Linked DNA regions of Homo sapiens. The protein of the gene in region 2 interacts with the protein of the main gene of each other region in a biochemical or structural test. Each region holds a gene or a part of one and is shown on either strand. Other genes may lie near its edges. The genes, in order: ARHGAP21, DENND5A and SHANK1.

Region 1 (3,654 bases), on a different chromosome or scaffold from region 2:
GGTATTTTGGGATCTTTTGCTTTTAAAAACAATTTTAAGAAGGACTTACCCAGTTTGATGTTGAATTACAAACCTTTTATTGACTATTTGGCATGAAGTAATGAAGCATATCTTTTAAACTAAAGCCACTAAAAGTACATTTCTTCAATAAGCATTTTACATACCTTATTTTTTTCTGAATTTTCTGCCACTGTCTTCAGATGAGCTGAAAGGAACTTAAGTGTTTCATAATGATGTTCAGGCAAATCGTGAATCTGAAACAGATTATTTTCACAATGGATTCAGAGGCTGAATTTTAGTTGTATCCCCCAAAATATAAAATAATACCTACTAGTCTTTTTAATGTTTTCAGACGATCTAGAGGATCTTCTTTACGATTGGCTTCAATAAAATCAGCATATTTATCTGACGACAAGAACAATAAAACAAATTTATCTTAAATTGCCTAGGTGAATTGTAATCTAGTTTCCCTTTAAGGATCAATTTTAAACCACAACATAGGAAAGAGTTCTAATAGTTTTGAAATGTAAATTTCTAAAATGTAAGTTCCCTGCAGGAACCATCCTATATTTACACAGCCTGTCCATTCCTCCCCCACCCTCCAACAACATCTAGTAAAGTGTCTTACATGGCACTTAAATACTTGGCTTGACTGAAAAAACATTTTTCTACTCATTGTACCTTATGATGTCAGAAGCCATTTGACTGGAAACAATAATATTAATTTGGCTGCAAACATGTATGAACAAGATAATACATATTTCACTGAACCTAAATAACTTTTATGTTTTTAATATATGAGGGAGAACTAAATAAAGCCTCCTGCTTCCTTTGACCAAGACATTTTGTCCTTGTTCAATTTAATATTCTATGGTTTTCCAATTGTAACTTGAACCATTTCATCTGGTATCTTTCACGGGAGTTAACTCACCATTTGTGAAGAGAGGCTCAGGGAGTTTTCTGAAGAAGGATTTTAGTAAACTGCTTATCACATTCAAATCTCGCCATTTCTAGGTGTACAAAATAGAAATATAGTATTTTCATATCCAGTTCCACCAAAGGGGGAAAAAAAAGGATCAGTTATTCAAATAAGCAAACTTACATCATCTTGTATATCAATATCAGCCATTCCCTTGTTGAGTTCTTCTTGCATACTTGAGATGGCTGCATTATTTCCAGGAACTCTATAAATACCTGTATATTCAAGACCTCTTTCTTCAACTAATTTGCAACATATGTCAACTATTAATGGAATATACTGCAAAACAAGAAATAAACATTTTATTTAATGCAGCACAAATGTTTAGTAGTTGTATATCACAGCTAAAATGCCCCTTTCATCCAAAAGGAAACATAAATTGCTGTTATGTAATATAAAGAATACAGACATTATAGATCTGGGAATAGATAAAACCTGCAAGAGATATTTGAGACAGTAAGAAGAGAACAAAGAGACTGAAAGAAAGAGAGGGACCCCCAGAGAGATAACATTCTAAAAAGGAAGTAACAACAGGTAAAGAGAATGTGGAAACCGTTCCGCTGAATAAAGAGTCAAGAAAAGAGGAGGAGAGAGTAATATCAATTCATGATACGAATCCTAGCATGGGTGTTTTAAATATATGCACATACATTTACATGTATTATACTTTCTTAATCAGGTCCTTGTTCTCATCCTTGTTTTAAAATGCTAAAAGCAGAAACACACGATTTGAAGACGAATTCTTACAGACCATTTCAGACAAATTCCTAATGGTTGAATAATTATTCAATTTCGGAGTCAATACATTAGAAAAAAAGCATTACAGGTCAGAAATACTTAGGGAAACTAAGGTCTGCTATGAAAAGGAAAACAGATTGACAGTCTCTGTTGTCTGAAAGGCTATATACTCAGATCCCATTATAATCAAAACTGAATTAATGACTTGAGGAAATCCGGTGGGCTGGTGTCTCCTACCCGATTAGTATGAGCTGGTGGGCAGTCATCTAGTCGGACGCCGAAAGTTCCTGTAGCAGTTGGCTTTTTCTCAAATGTCTTTCTCATGATACTTGGAATGCCTTTTCTCCATGTGCCTTTGTCTTTTGGGGGACTGGTATCATCTTTTGATTGCCAGTCAAAATAAAACAACATAATAAAATGGAAATGAGTGTCTAAATCATGACTTTAAAAACACTTTATCAATGTTTACATAAATCCAAGTCCTGTAATATAAATAATACATCCTATATTTAACAAAAATATGTTCTCTTCCATATAACTTTTACTTCATTCTTTTATAATGCGTGCTATAATTTTCTTTAAAACAGCAAAAAAAAAAACTACATAGAATCAGTGTGTCATCTTTATAGTGAGACTTCAACAAAGGGAAAAGTAATAGTTTTATTTCAAAATGATAGGACCTGAATCCTCGGAGTCATTTAAATTTGTAATGTCTCTGATTTAAGTATTGTTTGTATTTTCCCTCACTTTCGCTTTATAATGAAGCTGGTGTCTTGGGCCTCACAAAGGGAAAGGCCCAATGAGCCCAGACCAAGCCTACTATGAATTTTGAGCTAGTTGACATGGGGCCTGGTCAGTAGAAATGGTACAGAAAACATAAACGTACCTCAACGATGCCAATTTTAAATCATTATATTTATTTGTTAGAAAGCTAACATCAATACCTTTACTGAGAAGTTTCCTTTCCGACTCTTCCTTCGGAGAGTGTGGGCTTTGAGTCTTTGGCTCTGATTTAGCACCAAGCAAAGTTTGCCTGATGCTGAGACTCTGGCGAGGTGTTTTTGGCAACTGTTCTGCTTTGCTGTTGAAGGAAATGACATTTGTTAACAATTACAGTAATCCCCCTCTATCTATGGTTTCAGTTACCCGTGGTGAGCCATGGTCTGAAAATATTAACTGGAAAATTCTTGGAATAAACAATTCATAAGCTTTCAATTTTGTAGTCCTGCCCAGAATAAGAATCATCCTTTCATCCCGAGTAGCCACACTGTATACACTACCCGCCCATTACTATATGGGAAAAAATATAGCGTAGAGAGGATTTGGTACTATCTGCGGTTTCAAGCATCCACTGGGGGTCTTGGAATGTATCCTTGCAAATAAGGGGGATGACTGTACTGATTTTATATCCAAATTAACTGCAGGCAAGGTGGGATTCTCACCTCATCAGATTGTTGTATTCTTTTATTCTTCGACTAATTAGATCCCTGTTAGTGACTCCAGTGTCCTACAGAATAAAGTAAAATTAGAAAATCAATTCTAAACATAAATAAGTGATCCTTACTTTTTTGAGGCTTTCTATTGTACTGCTTTGCTTATTTAACACAAACACTACTATCATCTGTTCTCAGTGGAGCTGTTTCAAAGCTTCTATTCAACATCACTGTGTGAAAGATTTTCCAAGTGCCTCCCAACATTGCCAAAGGGTTTTGCTTCTTTTCTGTATCCATGCGATACCTAGGATAGTACCAGCAAGTAACATGTGTTCAATACTTATTGAATTGATCCGTCCATTTAAAATAAATGACTAGGAAGCAGCCAGTGTTTTCTCTAATACCAGAAAGAATGATCAGCATTTAAGAAATATACGTGTAAGTGATTTTTCTTCAAAAAGAAAAACAAATAATATAGGTGGATAAAAGATGAAAACAGACTGC
Region 2 (3,654 bases):
TATAAAATATGTAGTTTGTAAGGTACTTAATAAGGGTTATAAAGAAAAATAAAACAGGGAAAGGGATAGTATTTGGGGAAGAGAAGTTCCAGTTTGTAATAGGGTGGTTAGGTAGGCATCCCTGAGTGACCTGTTAATATCTGTAGGAAAAGTATTCCAGGCAAAGGGCACAGGAAGTATAAACGGTCTAAGACAAGAATGTGCTTCGTGTATTCAAGAACCAGAAGCTGGGTGGATGGAATGGAGTGAATGAGCGGGAGTATAGTAGGAGATGGTGTTAGAGACTTAACTGGAGGCCAGATGGTATAGAATCTTGTAGGCCATTGTAAGGACTTTGGCTTTTACTCTTAAATGGCTCTTAGATAGCCATCAGAGTTTTCAATTTTTTTTACTTTTTATTTTAAAATAATTTCTAGCTACGGAAGATTCGCGAGGGGTATTCAAAGGACTCTTGTATAACCTATCCCAAATTCACCAATTGTTAACATTTTGCCACATTTGCTTTATTATGATCTCTGTGTGTGAACATAACTGAACCATTGAGAGTTATTGTGACTCCTAAATTCTCATGTGTTTATTTCCTAAGAATAAAAACATTCTCTTAAATAACTATCATTGATCAAATTTGGAAAACCTAACATTGAGACAATACTATATTAAAGTTTCTCTGGTACCCGATAATGTCTGTTATGATAATTTAAAAAAATTCCTTATTCAGGATCTAGTGCCATATCATGCATTGCTTTTAGTTGTGAGTTTCTCAGCTTTTGTCTTTCATGACATAGACATTTTTGAAGAGTACAAGCAAGTTATTTTATAGACTGTCCCTTAATTTGGTTTTGTCTGATGTTTTCATGATTAGATTCAGATTATAAATTTTTGCCTAAAATACCATAGAAGTGATGTGCTTCTCTCAGTGCATTATATTAGGAGGCACATACTGTCAGTTTTCATGATTACAGGAGGCAGGCATATGATGTCATTTTGTCTCATTTTTGGTGATACTAATCTGCTTACTTGGTTAAGATGGTGTCTGTGGTTTCTTAACTGGAAAGTTATAATTTTTCCCTTGGTAATTAACATGTAAGTCATGGGGAGATACTTTGAAACTAATTATTCTGTTCTTCTTTAAAGTTTTGCCTAACCATTTTTTTTTTAGTTTTTATTTTTTGAATTATATTTGCAGTTTATGGATGCCTAATAGTTTAGCATTTATTGATGATTCTATTCTGAATCAGTTATTTCAAGAATAGTAGCAAAAAGGTGATTTTCTTTTTCTTTTCTTTTTCCTTTTGAGACAGGGTCTCACTCTGCTGCCCAGGTTGGAGTTAAGTGGTGCCTTCATGGCTCACTGCAGCCTCGTCCTCCCATGCTCAAGTGATCCTCCCACCTCAGCTTCCCGTGTAGCTGGAACTACAGGCATGCACCACCATGCTTGGCTAATTTTTTATTTTTTGTAGACATGGGGTCTTGCTACATTGCCCAGGCTGGTCTCAAACTCCTGGGCTGAACCTCCTGCCTGGTTTCCCAAAGTGCTGGGATTACAGGCGCCACTGTGCCCAGCCTTAAAATTTTTTTTTTTTTTTAAAGAAATAGAGTCTTATTCTATCACCCAGGCTAGAGTGTAGTGGCACAATAATGGCTCACTGCAGTCTTGATATCCTGGACTCAAGTGATCTTCCCATCTCAGCCGCCTGAGTAGCTGGGACTACAGGTGCCCACCACCATGCCTGGCTAATTAAAAAAAAATTTTTTTTTTTTGTAGAGCTAGGTTCTTGCTTTATTGCCCAGGCTGGCAGAATAGTGGTTTTCAAACTTTATCTTTATTTATTAATTGGCATTATACCATAATGAAGAGTGTTTCTTTCTCCTTTGTTTATTATTGTATGGATTCATAGATTTTTATTTTACTCAGGTTATAATTCACTATAATTATTTATTTTGATGCTCAAATTTCCCAGATTTGGTCCATGGGCAAAGGAATGGACCTCCACAATGGCAGGGCTTTTGCTTTTTGCTCATTGATGGATTCCAAGCACTAAAACTGTGGCTGGTATATAAGGGTGCTCAATAAATGTTGTTAAATAAATGAATAACTTAGGCTTTTAACAGGATCACTCTGGCCATTATATTAAGAGTATATCCCCAAAGGGAGAATGGAAGAAAGCAAAGAGTTCCGTTAAGAGGTAATTTGTAATAATCCAGGTGAGAGGTGATGTCAGTTAGAACTAAGGAGATAACAGTGAAGTGGTGTGGAATGGTTGGGTTCTGGATATAGTTTGAAGGTGAAGTAATGGAAACTATGTTGAACTGAAGAGCACATACCTCATATAAAGTGGATAGCCGCTAATTAGCTCCAGTTAATTCCTTGTGGGTATACTGGCCTGATGTTACTAAATATTCCAATAATTGATGAGGACCCAGATTTTTTACATGAAATCTCTGATTTTTAAATATTGGCAATAATGTTCTTTTTAAACACTGCAGGCCAAACAAAAAGCATCTGCTGGCTGAATGTAGTTCCTGAGGCTTCACTTTGCAACTTCTAGTTTAAGATACGAAGTTAGAGCCTCCTCTCTCTGGGTGAAATATAGACTTGGACAAATCATATTGCTTTCCTAGCTATTTCTTGGCTGGAGCTTCATAAAAATACTTTGAAATGGAGAATTAGTTGAATAGGGAGGAACTTCTCTGGTTTAGAACAGAACAGAGAGGAGGAAACCAAACTATATAGAGTGTTAGAAGATACAGTAGGCTTTTAGGCATTGGGGGTGTTTAGAGGCAAGGAAAGGATGATTGAAACAAATATGATGAACATAATGGAAAAATAACATTCTTCCATCTGAGTTTCTTTTGTATTTCCTAGAATATGGGTTACTGTATCCATAATAAGAATTTTAGGAGGTTTGAATGTAATTGAGATGGTTAGTATGTAGAATTGAATTTAACTTAGGACCTAAAGTCAGGCTCAGCATGGACAAGAGAAAGCTTTTTTCAGAAATTCCTGGATATTGCTGAGCCTGGCTGAGGCCACAGTGGAGTGGATTACTTTTCATTGGATGTAAATTATGCTTTTTGTTGTTAATAGAGTGCTTTAAACAATTTAGGTTGGTTTTCTTGAAGTAGTTATATTAATGATCCAAGGACATCTTCCTTGTATGGATAAAAATCACTCTGGCCAAAAACAAGCTATCACCACTGCAGTTGATTTTGCCTGCTGCATGTCCTGCCCTCTGAATAGAAAAGAGGTGTTACATAGGGAAAAGGAATGCAGGCTGAATTGTAAGATTCTGAAAGTGTAACCCTTTGGAATGCTGAATTGGCAGTTTTAAGCAGTGTTTTCTTTTTGGTATAGGTCATTTTATTTACTTTTAGATAATATTTATTCTTTAGTCCATATAGAATTAGTGTTTTTTTAATAGCATAATTTTTAATTGGTTGTTAAAAAATTATTGTTACTTTTTTTGAGACAGGGTCTCATTCTGTCACCTATGCTAGAGTGCAGTGGCACAATCATGACTCACTGCAGCCTTGACCTCCCCAGACTCAGATGATCCTCCCACCTCAGCCTCCTGGGTAGCTGGGACTACAGGCATGTACTGCCGAGTCTGGCTAGTTTCTGTATTTTTTGTAGAGATGAGGTTTTGCCATGTT
Region 3 (3,654 bases), on a different chromosome or scaffold from region 2:
CAGAGTCCGACAGCTCCCCAGACGGGCCAGGTCGAGGCCCCCGGGGGACCCGGGGCCAGGGCAGTGGGGCACCTGGTAGCCTGGCCTCTGTTAGAGGCCTCCAGGGCCGCTCAATGTCCGTCCCAGACGACGCCCACTTCAGCATGATGGTCTTCAGGATTGGCATCCCGGACCTGCACCAGACAGTGAGTACCTGCCCACTGGCCAGCGGCAGGAGAGGGACAGTGCCCCAACCGACATGGGGAGTCCACTGGTGCTGGGTATCCTCCCAGGAATCACCCCCACACTCAGCTCCTGGCTCACTTCCCAACCCACCTCAGGCTCTCCTCTGGCCCCTGGCCCACCCTAGCCCCTATCTCTTCCCCAACCAGAAATGCCTTCGCTTCAACCCCGATGCCACCATCTGGACGGCCAAGCAGCAGGTGCTCTGTGCCCTGAGCGAGAGCCTGCAGGATGTGCTCAACTATGGCCTGTTCCAACCGGCCACCTCCGGCCGCGATGCCAACTTCCTGGAGGAGGAGAGGCTGCTGCGGGAGTACCCCCAGTCCTTTGAGAAGGGGGTCCCCTACCTGGAGGTGAAGCTTCCCCAACTCCTTCACTGATAAGAGAAGGCATGCCCTAAAACACATCTGCCCCCCACCCACTTTTTAACACACTCGAAACCTTAACGAGGGGGCACCCAGTGTGCGAGTCCAGACCTTCTAAGCATCACAGGGAAGTCAGAGAGTCCTGAGTTCAAATTACCATCTGTTCTGCTTCTGACCAGCTAAGTGGCCTTGGCCAAGTCACTTTCCTGCCCCAAGCTTCTCCTCACCCATCAAATTGGGGGAGGATTCCCAATTACAGTAGGCACTCTAGAACATTCCCTGTGGGGTCCAGACTCCTCCTCCTTCAAGGCAGGGGTTGCAGTGCACATATACCATAATACCCAGCACTGTCGGAAAAGCCACTGCCACCCATCTACCGCCTAGACCAAGGTTCCAGGGCTGTTTTCACTCCCACCCTGAGCTACCCCGGGGAATTAGAAGGGGATCAGACCTTCCCCTACCCCAAGCCTTCTCCCCAGGCCCCTGATTCCAAGTCTCTGTGTCTCTCTCACTACCCTACCCTTGACCTCAGTTCCGATACAAGACCCGAGTTTACAAACAGACCAACCTGGATGAGAAGCAGCTGGCCAAGTTGCACACGAAGGTGAGAAAACCCTGCTGGCATCTATCCCCTATAGCCCCCTACCACTGGAGCCCCCTACCCAACCACTTTCTCTCCCCACCTCTTCCCAATAGACCTCCACATTCCCCAAGCCAGCGATCCCTCTGGCCACTGCCCCCGCTTAACTTGGGATGCTGTACCACATTTGAGACAACCACAAATACCCCCCATTATCCCCATCACAACCCCTTCTTACTTTCCTCTTTTGCCCTTCATCCCTCTGCCTGGGCCCACATCATTCCCACCTGGCCTCCTTTGAGTCTCCCTTCTCTTCCCCTGCCTCCCCCCATATCCATCCAAGGCCTCTTTACTTCCCCACCTTGGCCTAGGACCCTGACACTGAAGGTCCTTCTGCCTAGAGTCTATTTCAAAGACAGGCTACATTTCTCCCAACCTCATAGCCTGAATCTCTGCAAAATCCAACCATTACACCCCCCTTTCCAGCCATATCTGTCCTCCTGGTACCTTGCCCGCCAGTCCTCAGCCCCTGTCTGTCCTGTGTCTCGATGGTGAGAGCTGGGAGGAAATCGGGAACTGCTTTGGTCAGAAATGAAGAACTCTTGATCCTTGAGAAGGAAAAACTCCCAGTCCCTCCTTGTCTACCCTCTCCCCACCACAGCATGCATTGAACTCTTTCCTCCCCTAAATGTTCCATCCCTCCAGACTTTCACGGTCCACTTTGGGAACCACTGGCCAAGTGTGGCTCCTGAGTGCTTGCAGTGTGTTTGGTCCCAACTAAGACTCGCTGTGAGTGTGAAATACACACTGGGTTTCAAAGACTTAGTACCAAAAAAAAGTTAAATAACCTCATTAATAATTTTCATCTCAATTACCTGTTGAAACAGTAACATTGTAGCTATATCAGTTAAATAACATATATCATTAACACGAATTTCAACACAACTAACACTTCACCCCCAACCACCCTGATTTTTTTTTTTTTTTTTTTTGAGACGGGGTCTTGCTCTGTCACCCGGGCTGCAGTGGTGCAATCATGGCTCACTGCAGCCTCAACCTTTCAGGGTTCAAAGGATCCTTCCAGCTCAGCCTCCCGAGTAGCTGGGACTACAGGCGTGTGCCACCACAACCTGGCTAGTTTTTTGCATTTTTTGTAGAGATAAGGGTCTCACTTTGTTGCTCAGGCTGGTCTCGAACCCCTGGGCCCAAGTGATCCTCCCGCCTCGGCCTCCCAAAGGGCTGGGTATTTTCTCTGTAAAGGAGGCTGCTAGAAGCTTTTCAATGGCGTATGTGACTCCACGTATATTTTCACTGGACGTCGCTGCTTGAGGACCCTGCTTCTCTGCCTTGCTCCTGACTGTCCTGTCTTCTCTCTCTTTGCCCATGGCTCAGACGGGGTTGAAGAAGTTCCTGGAGTATGTGCAGCTCGGGACATCTGACAAGGTGGCGCGGCTGCTGGACAAGGGGCTGGACCCCAATTACCATGACTCGGATTCGGGAGGTAGGGAGGGGTGCGCATCAGGAGGACCTCAGGGCCAGGACAGAGCTGGGGAGCAGGGGTGCCATCTGCATTCACATCCATTCCTGACTGGTGTCTCCCAAACACATTGCTGTCCAAGGGGGAGGCCACGGGGCCAGAGGCTGTGGGGTGGAGAGCTGCAGAGCCTGGAAAATGGGAAGGGATGGAGGGGAGGAGAAGGGGCTTCATGTGACCAGCTTTTCCCGCCCTTCAGAGACCCCCTTGACACTGGCGGCCCAGACCGAAGGCTCTGTAGAGGTGATTCGAACCCTGTGCCTGGGCGGGGCCCACATTGACTTCCGGGCCCGGGATGGCATGACCGCACTGCATAAGGCCGCATGCGCCCGACACTGCCTGGCACTCACGGTGAGGCTTCGGGGACCCCCCATCCCCGCCATGGGGCCCTCTCTCCTTTTCCCTTTGTTCTTTCTCAAACCTCAGTTCTTTGGTTTCAGTTAAAAATAGGCCCTCTCATGTCCCCAGTTCAAAGCCCCTTTCCATAGACTGAGACACAGCCCCTATTGTCACCCTTGTCAGGCCCCCCAGATGCACCCACCTGGGCTATAGCTGACATCACACAGACCCGGGCACGGCCTCCTCCCCTAAACACCCAGAACGTCTCCATCCCCTGTGGCCCAGCTTAATACCAAATCTGCCTCTGTCTCCCCAAGGTGTAAACCCTTCTCATTCCTTAAAATACGAAGTGAGCTCCCTGCTATGCCCCCAGATAGAGCCCCTCCACACACACCCTGAAAACAGCCCCCCAGCTACCCTTCCAAACCAGCACTGCACCAGCTCCCCTCCCTCCTCTCTCACATGCAAATACAGCCCCTTCCCCACGTACACAGCCTCAAATGCACTTTCCCAAATAGACAAACCCATACACCCACAAAATACATACACAGCGGCAGCTGCACAGTCTAATTTTAAAATACTCTTCTCCCCCTGCCCCCGCCAGGACACCTGAT

The links.
Region 1: the proteins of DENND5A (region 2) and ARHGAP21 interact in a test that uses a peptide from one of them, tested with the Homo sapiens proteins (one large-scale study listed by IntAct).
Region 3: the proteins of DENND5A (region 2) and SHANK1 interact in a test that uses a peptide from one of them, tested with the Homo sapiens proteins (one large-scale study listed by IntAct).

Annotation. Positions count from the first base shown.
Region 1 is NC_000010.11:24,594,786-24,598,439, forward strand, and holds part of ARHGAP21 (rho GTPase-activating protein 21), read right to left. Parts: intron 3,225-3,654; coding exon 3,160-3,224; intron 2,799-3,159; coding exon 2,662-2,798; intron 2,098-2,661; coding exon 1,955-2,097; intron 1,259-1,954; coding exon 1,103-1,258; intron 1,011-1,102; coding exon 932-1,010; intron 406-931; coding exon 332-405; intron 255-331; coding exon 165-254; intron 1-164. UniProt on the Homo sapiens protein: Functions as a GTPase-activating protein (GAP) for RHOA and CDC42. Downstream partner of ARF1 which may control Golgi apparatus structure and function. Also required for CTNNA1 recruitment to adherens junctions.
Region 2 is NC_000011.10:9,199,310-9,202,963, reverse strand, and holds part of DENND5A (DENN domain-containing protein 5A), read left to right. Parts: intron 1-3,654.
Region 3 is NC_000019.10:50,713,196-50,716,849, reverse strand, and holds part of SHANK1 (SH3 and multiple ankyrin repeat domains protein 1), read left to right. Parts: coding exon 1-185; intron 186-371; coding exon 372-575; intron 576-1,119; coding exon 1,120-1,191; intron 1,192-2,559; coding exon 2,560-2,668; intron 2,669-2,900; coding exon 2,901-3,052; intron 3,053-3,654. UniProt on the Homo sapiens protein: Seems to be an adapter protein in the postsynaptic density (PSD) of excitatory synapses that interconnects receptors of the postsynaptic membrane including NMDA-type and metabotropic glutamate receptors via complexes with GKAP/PSD-95 and Homer, respectively, and the actin-based cytoskeleton.